Homo sapiens: one gene and its partners. The protein of the gene in region 7 purifies or fractionates together with the protein of the main gene of each other region. This does not show direct contact. Each region holds a gene or a part of one and is shown on either strand. Other genes may lie near its edges. The genes, in order: DPY19L4, CLPTM1, SLC47A1, VRK1, POMT1, ALG9 and TMPRSS12.

Region 1 (3,500 bases), on a different chromosome or scaffold from region 7:
AGAAAATCAGTGACATTCCAATTCCTGAAAGAGCTCCAAAACGTAAGTTAGATAGACTTGGAATTTGTGCTACTACAAAAATAGTTTACACTAGAAAGTATATTTTATGTCAATATTTTAAATATACATATTTTGAGATTAAGTATATGCTCAGCTTTCACTAGGTTTTGGACAACCCCCAAATCTCACTGGCTTATGACAAACATTTATTTCTAATTAATATTACATGTTGTGGCTGCAGTTTGGCTGTCGTAGTTTTATGTGTTGCGAAGGAATAGTCCGTATTTGGGAAAGATTTTTCTTGTGACGTAGGAAAAGAGGAGGCAGAATCATGCAATGTCTCTTAAAGTTTCTGCTGACCTGGCACACTATCACTTGTACGCACCTTTTATTGGCCAAAGCAAGTCATATAATCAATTCAGACGATGGGATGTGAAGTATACTTTGATTACAGGGAAGTGTTCCAGGTCACATGGTAGTGGGCAGGGATATATAAGATTTTTAAAGGGAAGGAGAAAATAGTTGTGAATAATAATATAGTTTACCACACCCTGTCCTTGTGATTTATTTCTCTCCCTCAGACAAAATACGCTTACTTTTTCCCACACCCGAAAACTCTCTCTTATCTAGTCACAGCCTTAATCTTGAACCCAAAGGCTTATCTACATCAGGGCCAGCTATGACTCATTCTAATCCAGAGATCTATGAACTAAAAAGACAGGTTATCTGTTTTATGTCGGGGGTTCCCCAGAACACCCCCATGTTTGGTTATTAGCTGGAAGGACTCACAAGTTTCAGAATGAAGTTGTATTTACAGCTATGATTGATTGATTGATTGATTGATTGATTTTTGAGACAGAGTCTCGCTCTGTCACCCAGGCTGGAGTGCAGTGGCACGATCTCAGCTCACTGCAACCTCCACCTTCTGGGTTCAAGCGATTGTCCTGCCTCAGCCTCCTCAGTAGCTGGAACTACAGGCACATGCCACCACGCCTGGCTAATTTTTGTATTTTTGGTAGAGACGGGGTTTCACCATGTTGGCCAGTCTGGTCTTGAACTCCTGACCTCAAGTGTTCCACCTGCCACAACCTCTCAAAGTGCTGAGATTATAGGCATAAGCCACCGTGCCCAGCCTACAGCTATGATTTATTATAGCAAATAATATAAAACAAAATCAGCAAAGGGAAAAGGCCTATTTTGGTGAAATCTGCAAGAAACCAGGCATAGGCTTCCAAATTTCCACTCCAACAGAGTCACACAGGATGGGCCTGATTCCTTCAGCATCAAATTGTGACATTTGTAAAGTTTTATCTACCAGGGAAGCTCATTAGTGACTCAGTGCTCAGGGTTTTTACTGGGGGCTGGTCATGTAGGTATCCTCTGCCTACCATGTCCCAAAATTCTTGACTCCCAGAAAGAAAGCATAAACTACATTGTTTGTACAAAGAGGATAGGCACTGTTATCAGTTAGAGAATGGTGGGAACTCTCCTGAAATTGAAGTTCCTAGATGCCAGCCAAGAGAGCCTACCTTGCAAGCAGGGCTTTCTTTTTTTCCTTTTTCTTTTTCTTTTTTTTTCTTGAGACAGAGTCTCACCCTGTCACCCAGGCAGGAGTGCCATGGTGCGGTCTCTGCTTACTGCAACCTCCATCTTCTGGGTTCAAGCAATTCTTGTGCCTCAGCCTCCCGAGTAGCTGGGATTATAGGCATGTGCCACCACACTTGGTTAATTTTTGTATTTTTAGTAGAAACGGGGTTTCACCATGTTGGCCAGGCTGGTCAACTCCTGACCTCAGGTGATCCGCCTGCAAGCAGGCCTTTCTCAGGAAAGCGGTCTCAGGCCTGCTGTGTTAACTCTTTTCTGCACATCCCCCCACTCTCAGTATACACTGTTGGACAGGGACAGGATATCCCCTTACTCTGGGATAAGGAATCTGTTGTGTTTATGCCCCAGTTGTGTTCCTGGGGAATTGTTTTCCAGTTCATTGTTTTCCATGGTCCTTGATTTTACACTCTAGAGATCTTTTCTCTTCCATTTTCCTCTATAACCATATCTAAAGATGGGTTTGGAGAATGTGTCATCCTTAAGGGCTAAACAGCTTTCTCAGATTGCTTGCTCTGCACTAAAAGTTGAGGCCTATATATAAATTTGCTCAAGATAAAAGCTGTGGGTAATCTACAAATCTAGGTGAGGGGCTGGCCGCAAGAAAACTATATTTGGGAGCTGGAAAAATGAAGATCTATATTATATCATGACAAAACATTTGATAATACTGTTTCCTGTGAACAGTTGACAATACTATTTTTTTCTATCATTTTAGGTAATGAGATTGCAAAACAGAATGTTACTAGAGTGCCTTTGTTATTAACATCTGCATTTGACTACAGGAAAGAGATCTGGGTTTAGAATAGAATTGGACTATTTGTAAGTGGGAATAAAGAAGAAAATAGAGAATCCCAAAATTCTGGGACTTGTAATGTTGAAGTGAGAACAGTTTATTAACCAGGCATGGTGGCTCGCGCCAGTAATCCCAGCACTTTGGGAAGCTGAGGCAGAGGATTGCTTGAGGTTAGGAGTTCAGGACCGTCCTGGACAACATAGTGAGACCCTGTCTTTATTTAAAGAAAAAAAAAAAAGAAAAAGCTGTTTGTCTTTTTCAACCAATGAAAGTTAAAATCAAGAAATGGGAGGCCAGGCACGGTGGCTTAAGCCTGTAATCCCAGCACTTTGGGAGGACGAGGCAGGTGGATCATGAGGTCAGGAGATCGAGACCATCCTGGCTAACATGGTGAAATCCCGTCTCTACTAAAAAAATACAAAAAATTAGCTGGGCATGGTGGCATGCAACTGTAGTCCCAGCTACTTGGGAGGCTGAGACAGGAGAATCGCTTGAACCTGGGAAGCGGAGGTCACAATGAGCCGAGATTGTGCCACTGCACTCCAGCCTGGGTGACAGAGTGAGACTCCGTCTTAAAACACACACACACACAAATTTAAACTTAGGCAATATAGTGAGACCTCATCTCTACAAAAAATCAGAAAAAAAAAAATCAGCCAAGTGTGGTGGTGTGCCCCTGTAGTCCCAGCTACTTGGGAGGCTGAGACACAAGAATTGCTTGAATTCAGGAGGTGGAGATTGCAGTGAGCCGAGAATGTGCCACTGCACTCCAGCCTGGGCAACAGAGGAGATTCCATCTCAAAAAAAAAAAAAAAAAAAAAAAATTTAAGCCTAGGCAATACAGTGAGACCTCATCTCCACAAAAAAATTAAAAAAAAAAAATTAGCTGAGAATGTGGTGGTTCATGCCTGTAGTCCCAGCTACTTGGGAGGCTGAGGTAGGAGGATTGCTTAAGCCTGAGAAGTGGTGTTTGCAGTGAGCCAGGATCACGCCACTGCACTCCAGCCTGGACGATGCAGCAAGACTCTGTCTCAAAAAACAAACAAACAAAAAAGTTAAAAAATTTGAAAAATACAACGTAAGAAAGAAAATTAAATAGTCT
Region 2 (3,500 bases), on a different chromosome or scaffold from region 7:
TGGGACTACAGGCGCCCGCCACCATGCCCAGCTAATTTTTTTGTATTTTTTAGTAGAGACAGGGTTTCACCATGTTAGCCAGGATGGTCTCAATCTCCTGACCTCGTGATCCGCCCGCCTTGGCCTCCCAAAGTGCTGGGATTACAGGCATGAGCCGCCGCGCCCGTCCTCGTTCATTCTATTTTTTGTAGCCATTAACCATCCCCGGTTCTGTGCTTTTGAAGCGCTAGGATTCCAGATTCTTTCTTTTAAAAATTTTATGTTTATTATTTTTTCTTTATTTCTTTTTTCTTTTAATTCATCCATCTGCACACTGAAGGGGTTCCAGATTCTTAGTCTCCTCTCGGGGGATCCCAGGGGGCTGGATGGCAGGTTTCCCAGTCTGAGTCAAGAGTCAGCCCCTGCAGCCCTGTGGTCACCAGGAGCTCCTGCAGGATTTAGAGTCAAGGGTCTGCATGCAGACCAGGGCAGTGCCAGCTACCCCCACACACTGGCAAACGGTGGCATCTGGGCTCCCTCCCCAGATGTGGTCTTTAGGGACATCTTATCTCCTTGCCAGCCCTGTGACTACCTTCTCAGGGCCTCCCTGACTTGGTCACTAGCCCCAGGTCAGGCGCCAGCATGTGCTAAGTCAGAAGGAAGTCAGGCGGGTCTATGGCGGAGAGCCAAGGCTTGGGGACTCACCACCTTGCTGCTTCTCTCCTCAGGATCTTCATCATCTGGGCCATCAGCAGTTGGTTCCGCCGAGGGCCGGCCCCTCAGGACCAGGCGGGCCCCGGAGGAGCTCCACGCGTCGCCAGCCGCAACCTGTTCCCCAAAGACACTTTAATGGTAACTGCCGGGTGGTAGGGCAGACTTGGGAGGTGATGGGGTGTGGAGGGGTGGAATGTGGAGGAGTGATGTCAGCAGTCGGGACAGACCAGGTCCTTGCTCACTGGCAGGTCTAGGAAAACAGGTCCAGGGTTGAGGAACTCTGGGCCCATCCCCAACACGTGAGACCTCTGTCACCTGGGTCCATCCCCAGCACATAAAACCTGTGTCACCCAAAAGAAAAAGCAAATTCATTTGGTTAAAATAGGTTAAATCAGGGTCTTTGGATGTTATATTTCAAAAGTATGTTCAGCCTTTCAGGGTTGCAGAGGGAGATGTGCAAGGGAGAGAGTGTGAGAGGTGGGGAGGGCAGGGAGCCAGCAGAGGCTGACAGGAGGTGGGCCCGGAAGGAGAGGAGACCTGCACTTCCACAGTGGGCTTGGGCACAGGCAGGGCAGGGCTTCAGGAGCCTCCAGAGCAAAAGCATTTAGATCTGTCAGTCTAGGCTTTTCTGAGCAAACATGGCCATTGGGGCTTGAGAAAGGAGGAAGTTCTTGTTGGGTCACAGTGGGTTTTTTTTTTTTTTTTTTTTGAGATGGAGTCTCACTCTGTCGCCCAGGCTAGAGTGCAGTGGCATAATCTTAGCTCACTGCAACCTCTGCCTCCCGGGCTCCAGTGATCCTCCTGCCTCAGCCTCACGACTAGCTGGGATTACAGGCATGTGCCACCACGTCCAGCTAATTTTTTGTATTTTTAGTAGAGATGGGGTTTTACCTTTTTGGTACGCTGGTCTCGAACTCCTGACCTCAAGTGGTCTACCCGCCTTGGCCTCCCAACGTGCTGGGATCACAGGCATGAGCCACCGTGCCCGGTGGCTCACAGTGCTTTTGTAGCTCTGGACTGCTTCGTCCATAAGCCTGCAGAGCTCTGACCAGGAAGGCCCAGCAGCCATGAGGGCAGGAGATCATTCAGGGAGCTCCTGCCCCTTCCTACCCCTAAATTCTAATTGGCAGGCTGGCCAGTCTCCAAGTGTTCTTTGTTCGTTGACTTCACAGGCTCAGACCAGGACAAACATGGTGGTATGAGAAAAGAGAAAATATGTCCTCTCTGCTGCTCTTCCTCTCTCCTCTCCCCTGTCCTCCATAATTACTGTTCCCCTGAGTGTGCTGACCGCTGCCATAGCTCTTTAGCCAGCCTGCAGAGGCTCTGAAGAGCAGGCCTGAGCTCTGTTCCCTTCCTGTCCCAACAGAACCTGCATGTGTACATCTCAGAGCACGAGCACTTTACAGACTTCAACGCCACGTCGGCACTCTTCTGGGAACAGCACGATCTTGTGTATGGCGACTGGACTAGCGGCGAGAACTCAGACGGCTGCTACGAGCACTTTGCTGAGCTCGATATCCCACAGGTGGGGGCAGCTCTCGGTTTCTGGCCCCATGGCTGCTTGACTGGCACTGAAGGACCTTTTCCTCCAGTCCGCTCCTTGCTGAGAGCATGTGGAGTTTGGGCTCCAGGCTTGGCCCTTCCCTGGGCTCACATGGTCTGTGACCACAAGCCAGTCCCTGAGATCTCTGGGCTTCACTTTCCCCTACCTGAAAAAGGTAGATAGGGGTGGAATTGGCCTGGGACCCTCCCAGCTACCTCTAAGGTTGTGCAGTCCTCCACTTTAAACTGGTGAAAGATTAGTAATTGTCCTTGGGGATGTTTGCCTATCACCAGTTTATCAGGCAGCCCCGTTTCAAAATAATATTAGTTAATGTTGATTGAGCTAAGTGCAGGGTACTAAGCTAGGCTGACTCATGGAAATTTCCCGGCAACCCTGTGAAGCAGGAACTGTTATTATTCTCATTTAACATGTGAGGAAACTGAGAGAGAAGGAAAGTGATTTACCCAAGGCCACATCGCATGAGAGATTCAGACTCAGGCTCTACGGCTGTGGACTCTCGCAGCCCTAGGCTCAAATCCAACCTCCTCCAGGAAGCCCTCCCTGACTCACAGAGCACTCAGGCTTGGTTAAGCACCCTCTCTGGGTTCTCACACCTGCTGGGCTTCCCCATCCCAGCCCATTCTGGGGCCTCATTGGGACTCCTGTATGGGACTGTGAGCCTTGTGATAATAAGGCTGGGGCTGCCTAGATCACTTCCATGTCCCCAGCACTGCCCAACGTGGGGCTGGGTGCAGAATCAGCAAGTATTGAACAAGTAAAAGGGACATCTCTCTTTGGGGCCTTCTTCGGCTGAGTCCAAGACAGCTGCCCTCATTCCTTTCTCCCCAGCAGGCCTTCTCAGCTTTGGGGTGGAGGGCACATTTCTGTTCTATTTCTGTCTGGGTAGCTAGAAGCAGAATGTGGACACAGTCATTCTGGTTTTTTTTTTTGTTTTTTGTTTTTTTTTGAGACAGCGTCTCGCTCTGTCACCCAGTCTGGAGGGCAGTGGCGCAACCTTGGCTCACTGCAACTTCACCTCCCAGGTTCAAGCGATTCTCATGTGCCAGCCTCCTGAGTAGCTGGGACTAAGGCACACATGATCACACCCAGCTAATTTTTTTATTTTTTAGTAGAGACAAGGTTTCACTATGTTGGCCAGGTTGGCCTTGAACTCCTGACCTCAAGTGATCCACCTACCTTGGTCTCCCAAAGTGCTGGGATTACAGGCGTGAGACACCGCGTCCAGCCATCATTCTTTTCTTTT
Region 3 (3,500 bases), on a different chromosome or scaffold from region 7:
AGCTCTGTGCCTGGGTTGGAAATTGAGGCTACTTTTTTGTGTTAACATGATTTTGAGCCTCCACGCGAGAGTGGGGTGTTTTCTTTTTACTGAAATGATTTCAAACAGCAATGTTTCTGAACAGTCTGATTTTAGACAACAAAGTTTCTCAGTGAGTCAGAAAGCACTCGTCATTCCACTAGGGGAGTAATGACACTTTATGGGGACAGCGTGACCTTGGGAGAAAGGAGGTTTCCTTTTACGTTTGCACTGACTTTATCTGCGTCTGCTATTCTATCCGGATGCGGGGCAGGACAGAGTTTTACTTCCTTGGTCTGATGTAATTTTACTTTCACCCCTGTCTTACTTTGAGACACCAAACAGTCTGGATGTTTCACCAGTCCTGTACTTTTGAAAGTTAGATATGTTGGAATCCCTTCCGTATTCTAGAAAGAAACTCTAGTTTCTTCAAGATCTTAGGTCAATTTTCTGAATTTCTATTTTGGTGAAGAAAGTATTCTCATTTTCTCCTATCGTCCAGTGTCAAAGGTGCCTTGTTGACCCATTTAGCCCCTGCCAGTCCTTGCACTGTTGGAAATAAGCCATTTATCTTCTTCCTTCCCTGCTGCTGAACATATCTTGCCTGTGTCTCTCTGTGGCCAGAACTCCGCACTTTATACCTCAAAGAGAGAAGGAAGAGAAAGGGGTGGGAGAGTGGAAAGGCAGGAGCAACAAGGACATGACCTCCCCAGTTAAGCCCCCCAGCTATGCCTGTGATACCCGCTGAGCAGGCCAGCTGGAGCCTGTGTGTGCTTGGGTAGCAGAAAGGCAGTCCTATTCTGTGGATCTCAAGGATGGCATGCGGTGTCCTTTTTCCAGGGAATTGTACTGCCCCAGATCGTAACTGGAGTTGCAGCCAACCTTGTCAATGCCCTCGCCAACTATCTGTTTCTCCATCAACTGCATCTTGGGGTGATGTGAGTCCAACATACTCTTGGGACAGGGAGAAGGGATGACTTGCATGTGGTTTTTCCAGGAGGGAGAAGAGTGGGCTCTTCAGCTGGTTCTTGTGTCCATGCGTGGTCTCTTTCTTGCACACTGTGGAAAGCACTGTCAGGGATGGAGGGTGAGGCTGCTCTGGGAAGAAGACCTTGGCCTGCTGAGGACAGCACGGGAAGGGATGAGTCTCCCCTCCTCACTGAGTTGGGCAGGGAGAGGCGCAGGAAGGTACCTCCCTCTCATTGGGACTGTTCTTTCCAGAGGCTCTGCACTGGCAAACTTGATTTCCCAGTACACCCTGGCTCTACTCCTCTTTCTCTACATCCTCGGGAAAAAACTGCATCAAGCTACATGGGGAGGTAATGACTGCCCTTTTGTCTTCCAACTGGGATGTGGGTTTTGTCTCAGGTTGAGTTCCAGCCCGATGGCCAGATCTCCTGGAAATGTGTGTGTCCCCCCCACAGGCTGGTCCCTCGAGTGCCTGCAGGACTGGGCCTCCTTCCTCCGCCTGGCCATCCCCAGCATGCTCATGCTGTGCATGGAGTGGTGGGCCTATGAGGTCGGGAGCTTCCTCAGTGGTCTGTATGAGGATGGATGACGGGGACTGGTGGGAACCTGGGGGCCCTGTCTGGGTGCAAGGCGACAGCTGTCTTTCTTCACCAGGCATCCTCGGCATGGTGGAGCTGGGCGCTCAGTCCATCGTGTATGAACTGGCCATCATTGTGTACATGGTAAGCAGGGGAGCCGATCATGGGGAGGTGCCAGGCGTTTTCCTTGCTTGGTATCTGAAAGAGTCTATGGATGAGCACAGGCATTCGTACATGAATCATTTGTGAAATGATGGACAAAAGTCAAATCCCATCCTTGAGCCTGGGAGGGTACCTCTGCTACAGCTGGATCTTCCCTAGGAACTGAAGGGGGGCTGGAGAGAAACTGCACATGATCTGCTGGTTCTCCATCTCCTAACGCAGCTCCCAGCTGAATCTTCCCTTGAAAGATTTGATTTTGTTTCCATACTTTTAGAATCTTTTTCAGTTGTCACAACACAAATGCCTTGAGGGGCCAGGTGGGTGGCATAGCAGAGGGATGAGGCTGGGTGTATGACCATAAACATCAAGCTGCCTGTGTCACTATGCCCGCTCCTGCCTGGTTCTGAAGCCTCTGAAAACACAGTGTGGCTACTGCAAGGTAGATCCCCAAAACAACTGAAAGCAGGGTCTTAAAGGGATTTTTTTTTTTTTTTTGAGATGGAGTCCCACTCTTGTTGCCCTGGCTGGAGTGCAATGGTGTGATCTCGGCTCACTGCAACCTCCGCCTCCCGGGTTCAAGCATTTCTTCTGCCTCAGCCTCCCAAGTAGCTGAGATTACAGGTGCCTGCCACCACGCCCAGCTAATTTTGTATTTTCAGTAGAGACAGGGTTTCACCATGTTGGTCAGCTGGTCTTGAACTCCTGACCTCAGGCGATCTACCCGCCTTGGCCTCTCAAAGTGTTGGGATTACAGGCGTGAGCCACCGCGCCTGACTTGTTAACTGTGTTCACAGGAGCATTATTGACAGTAGACAAAAGGTGGAAGCAACCTATGTGTCTGCGGGTAAATGAAATGGGTTCTATGCATACAGTGGAGTATTATTCAGCCTTAAAAGGGAGGAAATTTTGATCATAGAGAACACTAGTCATTAGGAGGCTTTTCTTTGGCTTTATTTTCCTGAAAACATCAACTGGAGATTCTGAAGGAAGCAAGTACCATTTTAGAAATGTAAAATTAAAAACAAAGGGAGTTTATAATGTGGGGAGAAACTCAAGCCAGCAGATATGCTTGGCATTTTTTGCAGTATTAACACTTAGATTTTTTCCCTCTGATATTGGTTATGTTTTAAAACATAGAGTACACATTTTCTGTTTTGTTTAAGAATTATTCTCTTGCAGACCTATGTTTTTTGTTTTTGTTTTTCTATCCTTGGCAGAGTTTTTTAACATGGATTTTTTACTTCACTTTTAATATTTTATTTACATTTTATATTTGAGTAAATTCATTAACTATATCTAAGTCAAAATGCTTAATGGTATATAGGATTCCACTATATGTGATATACTTTTAAAATCAATTTCCTATGGTTGAATAGTTTATTTCCAATGTTTCAATATTAACAACTCTTCAAGGAACATCCTAGGAAAAAATATCTTCATATACTTGTCTGATTATTTCTTTAAGATTCATAAAAGTGGGCCCAGGGTATGTTCACGGGGCGATGCTGCCCTCCCAGCTGGCCCATGGGTGACCCTGGGAACATTAACTGCCTCACAACGTTTGTGCCTCAGTTACCCGTAGATGTAGTGAGGGTAACAATACTTACTCTCGTTGGTGATAAGGAACAGCTAACACAACACACAGGGTTTTTCTGCTCCCAAAATGGGATTCTTCAGTGCACCAAATCGAAGAAAGCACTGGAGCTCACGCTGGTTTCTCCATTGTTTCTCCTTAACAGTGGAAACTGTAACTTTTGTTCTAGTAGCATCTAG
Region 4 (3,500 bases), on a different chromosome or scaffold from region 7:
TTCAAATCAAAAAGACTGAGAATACTTGATGACTATTTTCACATATTTGAAAGGATGTTACGTGGAAGAGGGATTCAGCCTGTTCCACATTTCTCCAAAAGGCAGAAGTGAGTAGAAGAAATTAAGTAGACTTCCACTCAATGTAAGAAAGAATTTTCTAATGGTCAAAACTTTAATAAAAATAGGATAGGCTGTCTCTAGAGCAGTGGTTCTCAACCAGAGATGATTTTGTCTCTGTAGCCAGAGATGCCACTAAACATCCCACAGTGCAGAGAACAAACAGTGACCCATGTAAAATGTCAACAGTCCCATGGTTGAGAAATTCTGCCCTAGAGATAGTGAGTTCTCTGTCGTTGGAGGCATTTCATCATAGACCAGACCATGTGATGATGTCACAAGAATGGTGGGCCAGGAATGGTGGCTTGTCATTCCAGCTACTCAGGAGGAGGATCATTTGCTCCCAGGAAATCAAGGTGGCAGTGAGCTATGATCGCACCACTGCACTCCAGCCTGGTTGACAGAGCGAGAGGAAGGGAAGGAGGGAAGGAAGGGAGGGAGGGAGGGAGGGGAATGATGGGAAGTGAGAGTGAATTGAAAAAAGTTTTGTTTCAGATACCTCTCCAGAGAAAAATACCTTCAGGTATATCAAAGTGAAAATGATGATGATGACAAACATTTATTGAACACTTACTGTGGGCCAGACATTACACCAAATGACTCATGTATACAGTTTGCAGTTAATTCAACAACTCTAAGATAGGTATTATTTTACCTTGATTTGATGCTAAATTGAATTGCTCTAATGTCACACAGCAGTCAATATTTGAACTAGATCTACCTGACCCAATTTTATATGTCACTGTCCAAAGCATAAACATCAAATGACTTTCAAAGCTTTCACACTCTGGAAAAGAAATGAACAAGCACATATTCCACAAGTATCAGGACAATGTCTGAACAGGTTTGTACTCACTGTAAACCTAGCTGGCTAGGAGAAAGAGGAAAGGATTATTTGAAGTAGTCCTGTGATGAAGAAGAGAACAATTATCCTGATTGTCCCCAATTGCCTACTTCTGTAAGAGCCAAGAAGCTCTTATATACCCATGGAGGATGGGATTAATGATGACATCCTTTTATCCATAGGCGTGAAAGCTCAGAATGGACAGACGTTTGAACATCCCCGACTGGGAATCCTGCCCTTAACAAATACACTAGATGCAGATACATGGTTTCTTGGCTGCCTATACTCACGCCCATCTGTCAGGATGGCAGTATGCCTGCTCACATGTTGGTCAAACTGTCACTAGGGCATAGGTGCCAAGCAATGATAGTTTTAAATGGGCAGCTTGCATAGCACTATAAGAGCTTGCTCTTCTGCAGAAAAAAAAAAAAAAAAAGAAAAATTCTCTGTGATAATACTGAAGGGCTGCAAATCACAAGTGAAATATTCTTGGTCAATCTCAACATTTCAGTGGAAAAAAAGATCTAGACAAGTAGAAAAGAATCAGAATAAGGAAGTTAAATCAAACAGAACAGGTACTTTAAAAACATGTGAGATGTTGCATGAAAGCTTTTAACACTGCCCTTCTTTCATTAACATGTGTCAATGGTAACCTCTTACACTGTAAAATCCTTGCCTCAACAAGTCATCACTGATTTTTTTCTTAATGGAATGATACATTTTTCCATGTTCTAAATAGGAACAGAAATGCATTGATTTCTAGTAGTTCGACACTATACAGGTTCTATTTGTTGACTGATTATTTTTAAAATGACTTAAGTCTAATCTACAGCCATGATAATCTTTTAAATGCACAAAAGAAAGCAGAAACCAAAGAGATCCCCACAGATAAACGGCAGGGGAGGGGAAGAGTATAATTTGCATGGAGAAAGAAACTAACAACTGAAGTAGGCACTAACAAAATGGAAAGTGAGTACTTTTGCTCATGAATTTAATAGGACTCGAGGGCAAAAACATAGATCTGTTATCTTTCACATCCCCCTGACTACAAGCAAAATGTTCCTATACTACATCTAGGTTTCTAGTGTATCCTTTAATATCTCACATGAAATATATAATGTCTTTACTGTCCGGAAATTCTTCCCTAAGACCAAAACCTTAAAGCTGCAATTTGAGCCATTTGTTCTTATGCAGTCCTCAGGATTTTGAAGAACAGCTGGTCATCATCATTCTCTGTATAGTTCTTCACATACAAGTATCAGGACATACTGATTAAATAACCCCTGAGTCTCCTCTTTGCCATGATAAATAAATCTGATCCCATTAACTTTTCCTCATTGGACCGATTTATGAACTCTTCATGTTTTTATCATTTCAGTTGCTCAACGCTTGGACTCTTTTCAGGCCTGGTAAGAAATGTCACCCACATCAACAATGAGCCAACGGAAACTACTCTTTTTCCCAAATGTACAACTTAATAACAGTAGCATAAATACGAAACAGTTTGGAAGTCCTGCTGACTTCTCCATATCCATCACTGAGGACAGCAGCAAAAGTTTGAAATCTACCACTGCCTTCTAGAAAATACTAGGAATTTATAACATTCTGAAGTAACACCACTTTTTTAGCTTTCTGGCAGATATTTGTAAAACAAAGTTGTAAGTCAAGGGTCATGATTATATCCTGTTCTTCCTACCAACGTATCACTGCCACAAATGGTCCTAAAACAACTTCTCTTTAATACCATTTCTATCATACCATTTTCCTGATTAAGAATATACAGCACCTTCCTAATAGCCAATGAAACTGATTACAAATGCTTCAATCTAGCCAGAAGTTTATATACTCTTTCTTTTTCACGAACCAATGATCCTTCCTTTACTTCTCTACTTCCCTTCACTTGCATGACTCCCAAAAATAGCCAGTTCTTACTTATTTTCTCTAGAACAGATCTTTGCCCATGTTATTCTCTAAAATGTTTTCCCACTTTTTCCAGACTCCAGCCATGTTATACCTTCAATAAACCTGTATTTATTAATAGTTAATTGCTCATTCATTTCTTCCTGTCTTTGTTTTGATACCTAATTTACAGTATATGGCCAACTGATTTTTGATTTTTAAAACTTATTGAATGGAGAAAGGGTAGACTTTTCAACAAATGGTTTTGGAACAACTGGACATCCATGGACAAAAGGAAAAGAAAAATGTACCAAGATCTAAAGCTCACATCCTGTGCAAAAATGAAACCAAAAAGGATCACGGATCTAAATGTAAGACATATAAGGGTAAAACAGAAGAAAAAATGAGAACAACCTCCTGACCTAGAGTTAGGCAGAGAGTTCTAAGATAGGCACTAAAAACACGATCCATATATTGAGAAGTTGGACTTTAACAAAATTTGAAACTTTTTTGCTGCTAAAGACACTGTTAAGAGAATGAAAAGACAAGCCAGAGACTGAGAGAATATATTTACAAATCATATATTTGGCAAAGGATTTTGTATACACAACATATAAAGAATGCTCTAAAATCAGTAAGA
Region 5 (3,500 bases), on a different chromosome or scaffold from region 7:
ACACTTTGGGAGGCCAAGACGGGTAGATCACCTGAGGTCAGGAGTTTGAGACCAGCCTGGCCAATATGGTGAAACCCCGTCTCCACTAAAAATACTAAAATTAGCCAGACATGGTGCTGTGTGCCTGTAATCTCAGCTACTCGGGAGACTGAGGCTGGAGAATTGCTTGAACCTGGGAAGCGGAGGTTGCAGTGAGCCGAGATTGCGCCATTACACTCCAGCCTGGGTGACAGGGACTCCGTCTCAAAAAAAAAGATATTTAGCAAGCAACTCCTCAAAATGAAAAGGTACTGTCTCACAAAACGAAACAAAAAAAGGTACTGGACCATCTCAGATCAACAAACCACCCAGAATCTCTGTTCTCGTTAACTAGGAAGACACTCCATTTTCCATACCTGTGCTTTTGGCAGTTGAAGAACTTCAGGTAGGACAACACGGCCAATAGATTGAAAAATATTAACACTGATTCCAAAAGCATTAGCCTTGACTGAGTGATGAGAGCATTCTCTGTTTCAAAGAGGAAACACATGTCAATTTTAAGGTAGCAAGGGAAAACGTATGAGGATGAAAAACACTCATGAAAAAAGGCATTACTTCAGAAGCGATACAACTGTGTGGGGCTGTTGTGAATGTTAAAACATTCTATAGACACAAGGCCTCATACAGTCATCACCCAATACACATCTCTTTTGATTTTCTACTGTCTCTTTCTTTTCTTTGAGTCAGGGTCTTGCTCTGTCGCCCAGGCTGGAGTGCAGTGGCACCATCATGGCTCACTGCAGCTTTGACCACCAGGGCTCAAGGGATCCTCCTGCCTCAGGCTCCTGAGTAGCTGGGACTATAGGCGCATGCCACCACACCTGGCTAATTTTATTTATTTATTTTTTTGAGACAGAGTCTTGTTCTGTCACCAGGCTGGAGTGCAGTGGTACAATCTCGGCTCACTGCAACCTCCGCCTCCCGGGTTCAAGCGATTCTCCTGCCTCAGCCTCCTGAGTAGCTGGGACAAAAGGTGGGTGCCACCATGCCCAGCTAATTTTTGTATTTTTAGTAGAGATGGGGTTTCACCATGTTGGCCCGGATGGTCTCGATCTCTTGACCTTGTGATCCACCCGCCTCAGCCTCCCAAAGTGCTGGGATTACAGGTGTGAGCCACCGTGCCCGGCTTATTTATTTTTTTTGAGATGGAGTCTTGCTCTGTTGCCCAGGCTGGAGTGCAGTGGCGCAGTCTTGGCTCACTGCCACCTCCACCTCCCAGGTTCAAGCAATTCTCCTGCCTCAGCCTCCCAAGTAGCTGGGATTACAGGCACCTGCCACCACACCCAGCTAATTTTTTGTATTTTTCGTTATTTTTAGACAGGGTTTCACCATGTTGGCCAGGCTGGTCTCAAACTCCTGACCTCGTGATCTGCCCGCCTCAGCCTTCCAAAGTGCTGGGATTATAGGTGTGAGCCACTGCGCCCAGCCTAATCTAACTTTTCATCTGCTTTAATTTCATCTGTTCATAAACGTGAGCTGGAAGACCCTCTCTGAAGAGGATCCACTGACTCACGAGTCCATCTCAATTGGCCAAGGCCTGGGAGGTGGTGGAACAAGGGGAAGTTATCATTTGGTCACAAGATTGGTTGGAGATGGAGGTGCCCACGTGTGCATGGACTTTGCAGCAGCATCTGGGCAGTTTTCTACTGCCATACCCCGACTGCTGATAAGAGTCTGATCCCACAATTCAGCAATCCCATAACCACGGGGTCAGCCTGGGAGCGGGTGACTTGCAGCGTCAAATTTGGATGAACCAGATGCACTTTCTGGTGCAGCTCGCCCACCAAGCCCATGTGATCTTCCGGGCCAAAGGGTCAGTTCTTCCCTGCATGACAGCAAGAGCAGGCAGGGGCGCAGGTCTTACCGATAAGCATCAACAGAGCAGCTCCCATGGCGGCACAATGAGAAAAGTGGAGCTCCAACACTATCTGGTAGGCCATGGGGACCGACAAGGCCCCCGCGAGTGCTGGCAGCAGGCGCAGGGACCACACAGGCACGTTGCTACTGTATTCTGGAAAAGCAACCACACTGCAGAGCTGACTACACTGTGCACACACCATCTCTGTGTACTGCAGCTATGCTTTCACATAGCGCCGTCATGTTCACAGACTCTAAAATGCACGTTTACAAAACTGGGGACCCCATCAGCAGCAGAGTGCATAAACTATGGGTGAAGGCTTTGAAATTAGCTTTGCATAGTCATGGAACCCGATCTCATGAAGCATAGACAGGACTAAGGATTCTAAAATTTACCGCCTTACTTATACATATTTACCCTCCCTGTTTTCTTTTTTCTTTTTTTTTTTTTCTCTGAGACGGAGTCTTGCTCTGTCCCCCAGGCCGGAGTGCAGTGGCGCCATCTCATCTCACTGCAAGCTCCGCCTCCCGGGTTCACGCCCTTCTCCTGCCTCAGCCTCCCGAGTTGCTGGGACTACAGGCGCCCGCCACCACGCCCGGCTAATTTTTGTATTTTTAGTAGAGACGGGGTTTCACCATGTTAGCCATAATGGTCTCGATCTCCTGACCTCATGATCCACCCGTCTCAGCCTCCCAAAGTGCCAGGATTACAGGCGTGAGCCAGCGCGCCCGGCCTACCCTCCCTATTTTCAAAAACATTGTGGCAATGGACAAAATTCACATGTACAACCGATCATCACAATCAGACGCTCTGTGATACGTGTACCAACGACAAGGGCTGAAATAATGACTGCAACTGAACAGTAAGATTTTAACCAGACTTTCCAGAAGTCTTTCATTTGTATCCAACCAATTTATTATTTTCTGGACTCAGATTAATAAGGCACAGTTTCTGTGGGACTAGGTATGAAAGGAAAAAAAAAGCCACAGTTGTTAATCCTTACAAAAGTCACAATCTCTTCATTCTAACCTGCGCACATTAAAAGGGAAATGAAAATTATCTTTTACCTGCTCCAATTCTGTTCCACAAAAAATTGCCATCGAATCCTCCTAAATAACCTGAAACAGAAGATTAATCAGTAACTATCCCATTCAGCAAATATTTCTAGAGTACTGTGGCAAGCAATAAACAAGATGCATCAATAATAAGACCTGGTTTCTGCCTGTAAGAAATGCACTGATAAGTTTTAAATGTATTTGAGGTCCTGAAGGGTAGGGGCTACTCTCCTGATGACTCCTACCTCCCAAGGCCAGCACCATGTGGCCAAATGGCGGCCCACTGTCATCCAAGAAGAAGATTTGTTTCATGTAAAAAGAGATGTACTGCCCATAATATACTTCGTCAAAACTAGAAAAAAAAACAACAACCCATATTATATTCAATTAGAATCTTAACTGTAAACAAAAACTGTGAGGATAAATGTGTATGTGTTTCCAAATGACTTTGAGTGAGTGATCAGCAAAGGCTGGATCTTTTGCCCCAATTGTTTCCCATCCCCAAATATTAAGATGCATACAGCATCACCCACCCACAGAGACATGGG
Region 6 (3,500 bases), on a different chromosome or scaffold from region 7:
GCACTTAAGTTTGTGAGCAATTATTTAATAAGTAAAAAAGAATGAGGCAGATACACTTCTCCCTGAAACTCACCTGAAGTGCAGAGAGAGCCACAGCGCCACAGAGACATATAAGTGGATACACAGGGAAAAGAAATCTCTCCTCTTTGTGAGGCTGGATGAAGAAAATTATAAACCAAATATACATTGGAGCCAAGGTAAGCCAATACGGGTGGCCTAAATTCTGAACTGCAAGACACAGAAAAATACCCATCTTTCATTATATTAGAACAAAACAACATATTTAGTTTTAGTGTTATCTTGATCTCAAATTTAGGAGTATGCCCTAGGACACTCCATAGAATGTTTCTACTCTTGTATTCACACTTTCTCCAATGCCATAAAGGCATCAAAAGGAGAGAAGAATATACTCCTTAGCTCTCCCAAGAGATCTAAACTCTAACAACAAGCACAATACTAGATTTGGTTAGGACACATATAAATGTCAAGTTAATGGCTAATAGAACTTAATAAATTCTACGTTAGATGAAGGAAAAATAAGCCGTCTCCTTTAATGAGTCCTGCCACTAAGACGAAAAGTTCCTGAGTTTAACCAAAAGCATAACATAAATTCATTTCTGGGGTTTTAATTCCAATGTTCTGTTTAATTGGTGTCTCTTATCTATACACCAATCAGTCTGTTCAAATAGCCATGGATCAAAGGAAAACAAAATTGTTGGATTCTCAAATTCATTACTGGTTTTCATCAAGCCACAAATGACGGAGTTTGTTTCAAGGCAAACATAAAAATGCTCTTAAAGGAAGTTCAGTGATTGTTTTCTCTCCATTTTGCAATACTCATCCACTCCGGATCCCCAAATTGGAACAAAAATGTACTTAAAGCATGTGAAAGAATTAAAGGAATGTAATGAACACTAAAACCCAAGAACCTGCTGGAAAGTTCCCGTGGTTAGGTACATGAGAAATGAGAGATAAGCCTGCAACCCACAGTGAAGGCATCTCCTACTGCGTTTACAGGAGTGATAATGAGCAACGCAAATGCGGGCAAATGGTAGATAGACAGCGCCCCCTGGTGTCCACCATGTTAACAGTAAGCCAGTTTACAAGATCAGGATTATCGTCAAGATCCACTTTAGCTATGCCTAATTTAGCATTCCTAGGCTATCACTTTCACTGTAGAAATTCTTTAAGGATAAAAATTCTTGAACTACAATAACAAGATTTTGTTTCAACTTTTGCTCTAAGACATTATGGGATTTTAGATAATAATTTAGAATATATACCTTTCTAGGTAGTATATTTTAAGGGGGAGGTTTTTTGTTTTTTGTTTTCTGAGACGGAGTCTCTCTCTGTCACCCAAGCTGAAGTGCAGTGGCACAATCTCGGCTCACTGCAACCTCTACCTCCCAGGTTCGAATGATTCTCCTGCCTCAGCCTCCTTAGTAGCTGGGATTACAGGCATGCATCAACACACCAGGCTAACTGTTGTATTTTTAGTGGAGATGGGGTTTCACAGTGTTGGTCATGCTGGTCTTGAACTTCTGACCTCAGGTGATCCACCCGCCTCGGCCTCTCAAAGTGCTGGGATTACAGGCGTGAGCCACTGTGCCTGGCCTAAGGTGGGGTTTTTTAATTAGAAGAAAATAAATCCACTTATTGTCCACAAGTAAACAGTCCTTTTCTCTTCTGTACCTTAAAGGCTAACGAGTAATCTTTTTTTAATAAGGCAAAAAATTTTGAAATGTCCTCCATAAAATATACAAAATCACAACCACAGCTAGATATGATGAAATCAAGAGTAATTTCTTTCCTGCTTCTTAATAATTTTCTATGGTTTGGGGGACTTTTTTTTTCTCTTGAGACAGGGTCTCGCTCTGTCACCCAGGCTGGAGCATAGTGGCACAACCATGGCTCACTGTAGCCTTGACCTCCTAGGCTTAAGCAATCCTCCCACCTCAGCCTCCCAAGTAGCTGGGACTACAGGTGTGCATCGCCATGCCCGGTTAATTTTTTAATTTTTTTCGTAGTGACAGGGTCTTGCTATCTCACCCAGGCTGGTCTTGAACTCCTGGGTTCAAGCAATCCTCCCACCTCGTGCTCCCAAAATACTGGGATTATAGGCATGAGCCACTGTGCCTGGTCTTTTTTCTCTTAAAAAAGTATTGGTTCTATTCTAAAATCACATAAAAATATAAAGAAAAAAACAGAAAATGTTTTCTTACTAGGTAGATATGTGCATACATTATGCATTTTAAACCAATATTTTATACTTAAAATTTTATCATACTGTAGAGAACAGCTTAATATCCTGTTTTTTTACTGACGTTACAAGCATTTCCAAATTTTCCACAAGCATAAATAATTATTATTGTTGTTTTTAAAAACAGAGACACAGGTCTCACTATGTTGCCCAGAGTGGTCTCGAACTCCTGGGCTCAAGCAATCCTCCCACCGTAGCCTCCCGGGCAGCTGGAACTATATGCACGTGCCACTGCTCCCAGCTATCATAAATTATTTTTATAGTCAGAAAAATAGCTATTTTCAAAAAAAGAAAAAGTGATCCTTAAGAAATAGAAGGGATAGAGGAATAAGTTAACACCTCAAGGGAGCAAACAGCTGAGTCTAAAATGTGGGACATTATGCAAGATGATGGCCTGGTTTCTTTAAAGAAATCTTCGAAAGAAAAAAAGTAAGATGGGGGTCTTCTTAAAAAGCTTAAGAAATATAACACTAAATTCAGTACGTGACCCTTGTTGAGATTCTGCTTTAAACTAACTATAAAAGGCTATTTTTCAGACAATCTAGGAAATCAATGGGTATTAGATGATATTAAGAAATTACTGATAATTTTATTAGGATAATGGCATTATGGCTACGTTGAAACAAAAGTCCTAACACCAAAGAAAAGTGACTCTGAAGGCTGCTCTAATATTCTTATAATACAACGAACTCATTATAAACCATTAATAGTAGAAAAGCAGAATGGAGGTGGGATGGGGGAACTGATCATATGGCATCCAAATCAGACTGCAAAGTCTGAAATTAAATCTTTTTCCAAACCTCATATGAATTTCTGTTCAAATCTGTCTTCCATAAAAGAAATGAGAGGCACTAGATATCCAGAGCCACGACAACTTGAGAAAACACCAGCTGTGCACTACAGAATCAGAGCAAGCAAAGCAAACGACAAACCAAACTTTCTCCAATAAGGCAGACACAGAAACAAAAAGGAACAAAGAAAAGCATCATGCTTCTGAGGAAGTCCAAAGCTTCCCTTACTTCACTATCAAATTTGGGGAAATCCCTGTATGGTTCAGATTTTATACTTTCGTTTGAAGTACTATCTCGTGGATTACCTTAAGCAACCTATCAGGTTAATATACACTTCTTTAAAAGATAGAAAACTCAAATAGGCTTGTTCTCTTCTGAGATTTTTTTTGAGATGGAGTTTTGCTCTTGTCGCTCAGCTGGAGTGCAGCGGCGCAGGGTCTTGGCTCACT
Region 7 (3,500 bases):
GTATATCTTCTTTGGAGGAATGTCTATTCAAGTCCTTTGTCCATTTTTGAACTGGGCTCTTTGCTTTTTTGTTGTTGAGTTGTAGGAGTTCTTTATGTATTCTGGATATTAATCTGTTGTCAGACACATTATTTGCAAATATTTTCTCCCATTCTGTGGGTCATCTTTTCACTCTCGATATTGTCCTTTGATACACAAAAGCTTTTAATTTTGATGAAGTCAAATTTATCTATTTTTTTTCTTTTGTTGCCTGTGTTTCTGGTGTAATATGTAAGAAATCATTATATCAAATCCAGTATCACGAAGCTTTTCCCCTATGTTTTCTTCTAAGAGTTTTATAGCTTTAGCTCTTAGATTTAGGTCTTTGATTCATTTTGAGTCCATTTTTGCATAAGGTATCAGGTAAGGGTACAATTTCATTGTTTTACGTGCAGCTATCAAGTTTCCCCAGCACCATCTATTGAAAAGTTTGTCCTTTCCCCATTAGATGGTATTGGCATCTTCATTGAAAATCAATTGATCATATAGAGAGGGTGTATTTCTGGGCTCTCAATTCTTCTCCACTGATGTATATATCTGTCCTTATGCTAGTATCACACACTCTTTGGATTAGTATGGATCTATAGTAAGTATTTTTTCTTGGTGGTGTTTTTGTTTTTTGTTTTGTTTTTTAGACAGAGCCTTGCTTTGTCACCCAGGTTGGCATGCAGTGGCATGATCTCAGCTCACTGCAACCTCCACCTCCCAGGCTCAGGTGATCCTCCCACCTCAGCCTCCTGAATAGCTGGGACTACAGGTGTGCACCACCATGTCTGACTAATTTTTGTATTTTTTTGTAGAGACAGAGTTTCACTATGTTGCCCAGGCTGGTCTGAAACTCCTGGGCTCAAGTGATCTTCCCAGTTTGGCCTCCCAAAGTGGTAACTGCAGGTGTGAGCAACTGCATCCGGCCTGCAGTAAGTTTTGAAATCAGGAAATGTGAGCCCTCCAACTTTGTTCTTATTTTTCAAGATTATTTTAGCTATTTGGAGTCTCTTAATATTCCATATGAATTTTAGGATGGGTTTTTCTGTTTCTGCAAAAAAAAAAATGTCATTGGGATTTTGATAGGGATTGCATTCAGTCTAAAAACTTTTTTTTTTTTTTTTTTTGAGACGGAGTCTCGCTCTGTTGCCCAGGCTGGAGTGCAGTGGCGCGATCTCGGCTCACTGCAAGCTCCGCCTCCCGGGTTCAGGCCATTCTCCTGCCTCAGCCTCCCGCGTAGCTGGGACTACAGGCGCCCCCCACCATGCCTGGCTAATTTTTGTATTTTTAGTAGAGACGGGGTTTCACCGTGTTAGCCAGGATGGTCTCCATCTCCTGACCTCGTGATCCGCCCGTCTCGGCCTCCCAAAGTGCTGGGATTACAGGCGTGAGCCACTGTGCCCGGCCCCTAAAAACTCTTTAAAAAGTTTACAGTCTACAGAGCAATATGGGGAAGTCCACTTTTTCCCATATTGGGGAAAAGATTGCTTTGGGTGGTTCTGTCATCCTTTTGTTTTTTTTATTTTTATTTATTTTTATTTTTTATGAGAGGGAGTTTCGCTCTTGTTGCCTAGGCTGGAGTGCTACAAGAAGACATAAATGAATAAATGAAAATACATCCTGTGTTCATGGATTGGAGGACAGTATTATAAGATGACAGAACCTGCTGGGTGTGGTGGCTCACACCTGTAATCCCAGCACTTTGGGAGGCTGAGGCAGGAGGATCACCTGAGGTCAGAAGTTTGAGACCAGCCTGGCCAACATGGTGAAACCCTGTCTCTACTAGAAATACAAAATATTAGCCAGGCGTGGTGGTGGGTGCCTGTGATCCCAGCTACTCGGCAGGACAATCACTTGAACCTGGGAGGCGGAGGTTGCAGTGAGCTAGATCATGCCACTGAACTCCAGCCTGGGCGAAAGAGCGAGACTTCATCTCAAAAAAAGAGAAAAAATATATATATATATATACACATATATATTCTTCAACTAGATCAGCGTGAGGGAGATGCTTAGGTCTGAGTTCTTTCACCAGTAATATGAGGTACGGGACTACTTGGCCAAGTTTAGTTATTAGTGTCTAGTTTTTTACACTAGTTACTGGAAGACAGGCTTGTCCTTTTTCATCAAGTTTATGGTGATAACTTTATGTTTTAAGTATTTTTTGCAGGTTTGGAAACTCTGTTGGAAAGTTGATTTCTATTTTGAAGGCCCCTTTATCAAATAAAAGGTTGTCAGGAAAAAAAAAAAAAGCCTTGCCAAGTCAATAAATGAGATTTATCAAGTTGGATGCTTGTTATTATAAAGTATTTAATTTCACATTGGTAGATATCTTCAAGCTCCCTCATCGACTTCCTGCTGGCCACTGTGTTGGATTTGCCTTCCCCACTTCCCACCCAGAAATCGGTTTAGTCTCTAAGAACCAGTCATGGTCTTTACTCCTTTTCAAAGCACTGGATTCTGATATGCAGCCAGATTCATCACATGAGGAATGATATTTGGGGCGGAGCTGTCTATAGCTAGGTGTCTCTGAAGGGATTGTTTTTGTCGTTGTTGTTTTGTTTTTTGTCTGCCCTTTTTCTCCCTTTCACTGAATGGCTTCCTTATAACATGAACTTACATATGATGTGTTATCATTCTACCTCATAATCTTTCAGTTTCAGCTCCTATTGCCAACTGGCCTTCTCATCAATTTTCATGGTGAATTATCTGATTATCCCAACCCAGCTTTTCAATCAGGTGATACCACCATTGCTCAATTTATGAATAAACCTTTATTAGAGGCCCACCCCTTTCCCAGAGAGCTGTGGTCAGGGGATCTGGGGTCATGTATTAAATGAGAGCACCTTGACAACAGAGTGGGCAGGGCACTCATCCTTGCATAGGATATGGATATGAGTATATAAGCACCAATGGATATTTCTTTTTGTTTGTTTGAGACAGGGTCTTGCTCTATCACCTAGGCTGGAGTGCAGTAGCACAGTCTTGGCTCACTGCAGCATCAATCTCCCAGGATAAATTGGTCCTCCCACTTCAGCCTCCCCAGTAGCTGGGACTACAGGCATGTGCTACCATGTCTAATTTTTGTGTTTTTTGTAGAGATGGGGTTTTGCTATATTGCCCAGGCTGGTCTCTAACTCCTAAGCTCAAGCTATTTTCCTACCTCGGCCTTCCAAAGGGCTGGGATTACAGGCATGAGACACTGCATACAGCCACCAATGGATATTTTTAGAAAAGGGAAAGAGGATACTGTTTTAATTATCTCTATGTAACTGGAACTGAGAAAGAATATGTTGTAGTCCAGCAGCCCACTGATATCTACTAAAACCTAGAGGCTTTTTCGTACAGCCAGTCCTAACTCACATTAGTAGAAATGACCTGTTGGATCTATTTTTCTTTTCTCAGTTTTCTCACTTATGCACTTATTTTCTTTTTAAAGTTAAGGCATAATTTACATGCAGTAAAATTCACCTTTTAAA

The links.
Region 1: the proteins of TMPRSS12 (region 7) and DPY19L4 purify together in Homo sapiens (affinity purification with mass spectrometry; 2 studies listed by BioGRID and IntAct, with this or other methods). This does not show direct contact.
Region 2: the proteins of TMPRSS12 (region 7) and CLPTM1 purify together in Homo sapiens (affinity purification with mass spectrometry; one large-scale study listed by BioGRID and IntAct). This does not show direct contact.
Region 3: the proteins of TMPRSS12 (region 7) and SLC47A1 purify together in Homo sapiens (affinity purification with mass spectrometry; 2 studies listed by BioGRID and IntAct, with this or other methods). This does not show direct contact.
Region 4: the proteins of TMPRSS12 (region 7) and VRK1 purify together in Homo sapiens (affinity purification with mass spectrometry; one large-scale study listed by BioGRID and IntAct). This does not show direct contact.
Region 5: the proteins of TMPRSS12 (region 7) and POMT1 purify together in Homo sapiens (affinity purification with mass spectrometry; 2 studies listed by BioGRID and IntAct, with this or other methods). This does not show direct contact.
Region 6: the proteins of TMPRSS12 (region 7) and ALG9 purify together in Homo sapiens (affinity purification with mass spectrometry; 2 studies listed by BioGRID and IntAct, with this or other methods). This does not show direct contact.

What each region holds. Positions count from the first base shown.
Region 1 is NC_000008.11:94,726,400-94,729,899, forward strand, and holds part of DPY19L4 (probable C-mannosyltransferase DPY19L4), read left to right. Parts: coding exon 1-42; intron 43-3,500. UniProt on the Homo sapiens protein: Probable C-mannosyltransferase that mediates C-mannosylation of tryptophan residues on target proteins.
Region 2 is NC_000019.10:44,972,380-44,975,879, forward strand, and holds part of CLPTM1 (putative lipid scramblase CLPTM1), read left to right. Parts: intron 1-707; coding exon 708-831; intron 832-2,059; coding exon 2,060-2,218; intron 2,219-3,500. UniProt on the Homo sapiens protein: Involved in GABAergic but not glutamatergic transmission. Binds and traps GABAA receptors in the endoplasmic reticulum (ER).
Region 3 is NC_000017.11:19,554,354-19,557,853, forward strand, and holds part of SLC47A1 (multidrug and toxin extrusion protein 1), read left to right. Parts: intron 1-858; coding exon 859-956; intron 957-1,239; coding exon 1,240-1,337; intron 1,338-1,442; coding exon 1,443-1,556; intron 1,557-1,641; coding exon 1,642-1,709; intron 1,710-3,206; exon of another isoform or gene 3,207-3,358; intron 3,359-3,500.
Region 4 is NC_000014.9:96,803,882-96,807,381, reverse strand, and holds part of VRK1 (serine/threonine-protein kinase VRK1), read right to left. Parts: intron 1,070-3,500; exon of another isoform or gene 1-1,069. UniProt on the Homo sapiens protein: Serine/threonine kinase involved in the regulation of key cellular processes including the cell cycle, nuclear condensation, transcription regulation, and DNA damage response.
Region 5 is NC_000009.12:131,505,918-131,509,417, reverse strand, and holds part of POMT1 (protein O-mannosyl-transferase 1), read right to left. Parts: intron 3,305-3,500; coding exon 3,198-3,304; intron 3,016-3,197; coding exon 2,965-3,015; intron 2,068-2,964; coding exon of another isoform or gene 2,051-2,067; coding exon 1,904-2,050; intron 508-1,903; coding exon 396-507; intron 1-395. UniProt on the Homo sapiens protein: Transfers mannosyl residues to the hydroxyl group of serine or threonine residues. Coexpression of both POMT1 and POMT2 is necessary for enzyme activity, expression of either POMT1 or POMT2 alone is insufficient.
Region 6 is NC_000011.10:111,840,582-111,844,081, forward strand, and holds part of ALG9 (alpha-1,2-mannosyltransferase ALG9), read right to left. Parts: intron 229-3,500; coding exon 74-228; intron 1-73. UniProt on the Homo sapiens protein: Mannosyltransferase that operates in the biosynthetic pathway of dolichol-linked oligosaccharides, the glycan precursors employed in protein asparagine (N)-glycosylation.
Region 7 is NC_000012.12:50,845,926-50,849,425, forward strand, and holds part of TMPRSS12 (transmembrane protease serine 12 precursor), read left to right. Parts: intron 1-3,500. UniProt on the Homo sapiens protein: Required for male fertility. Plays a critical role in sperm capacitation and acrosome reactions during fertilization, and also plays a role in the regulation of proteins involved in spermatogenesis.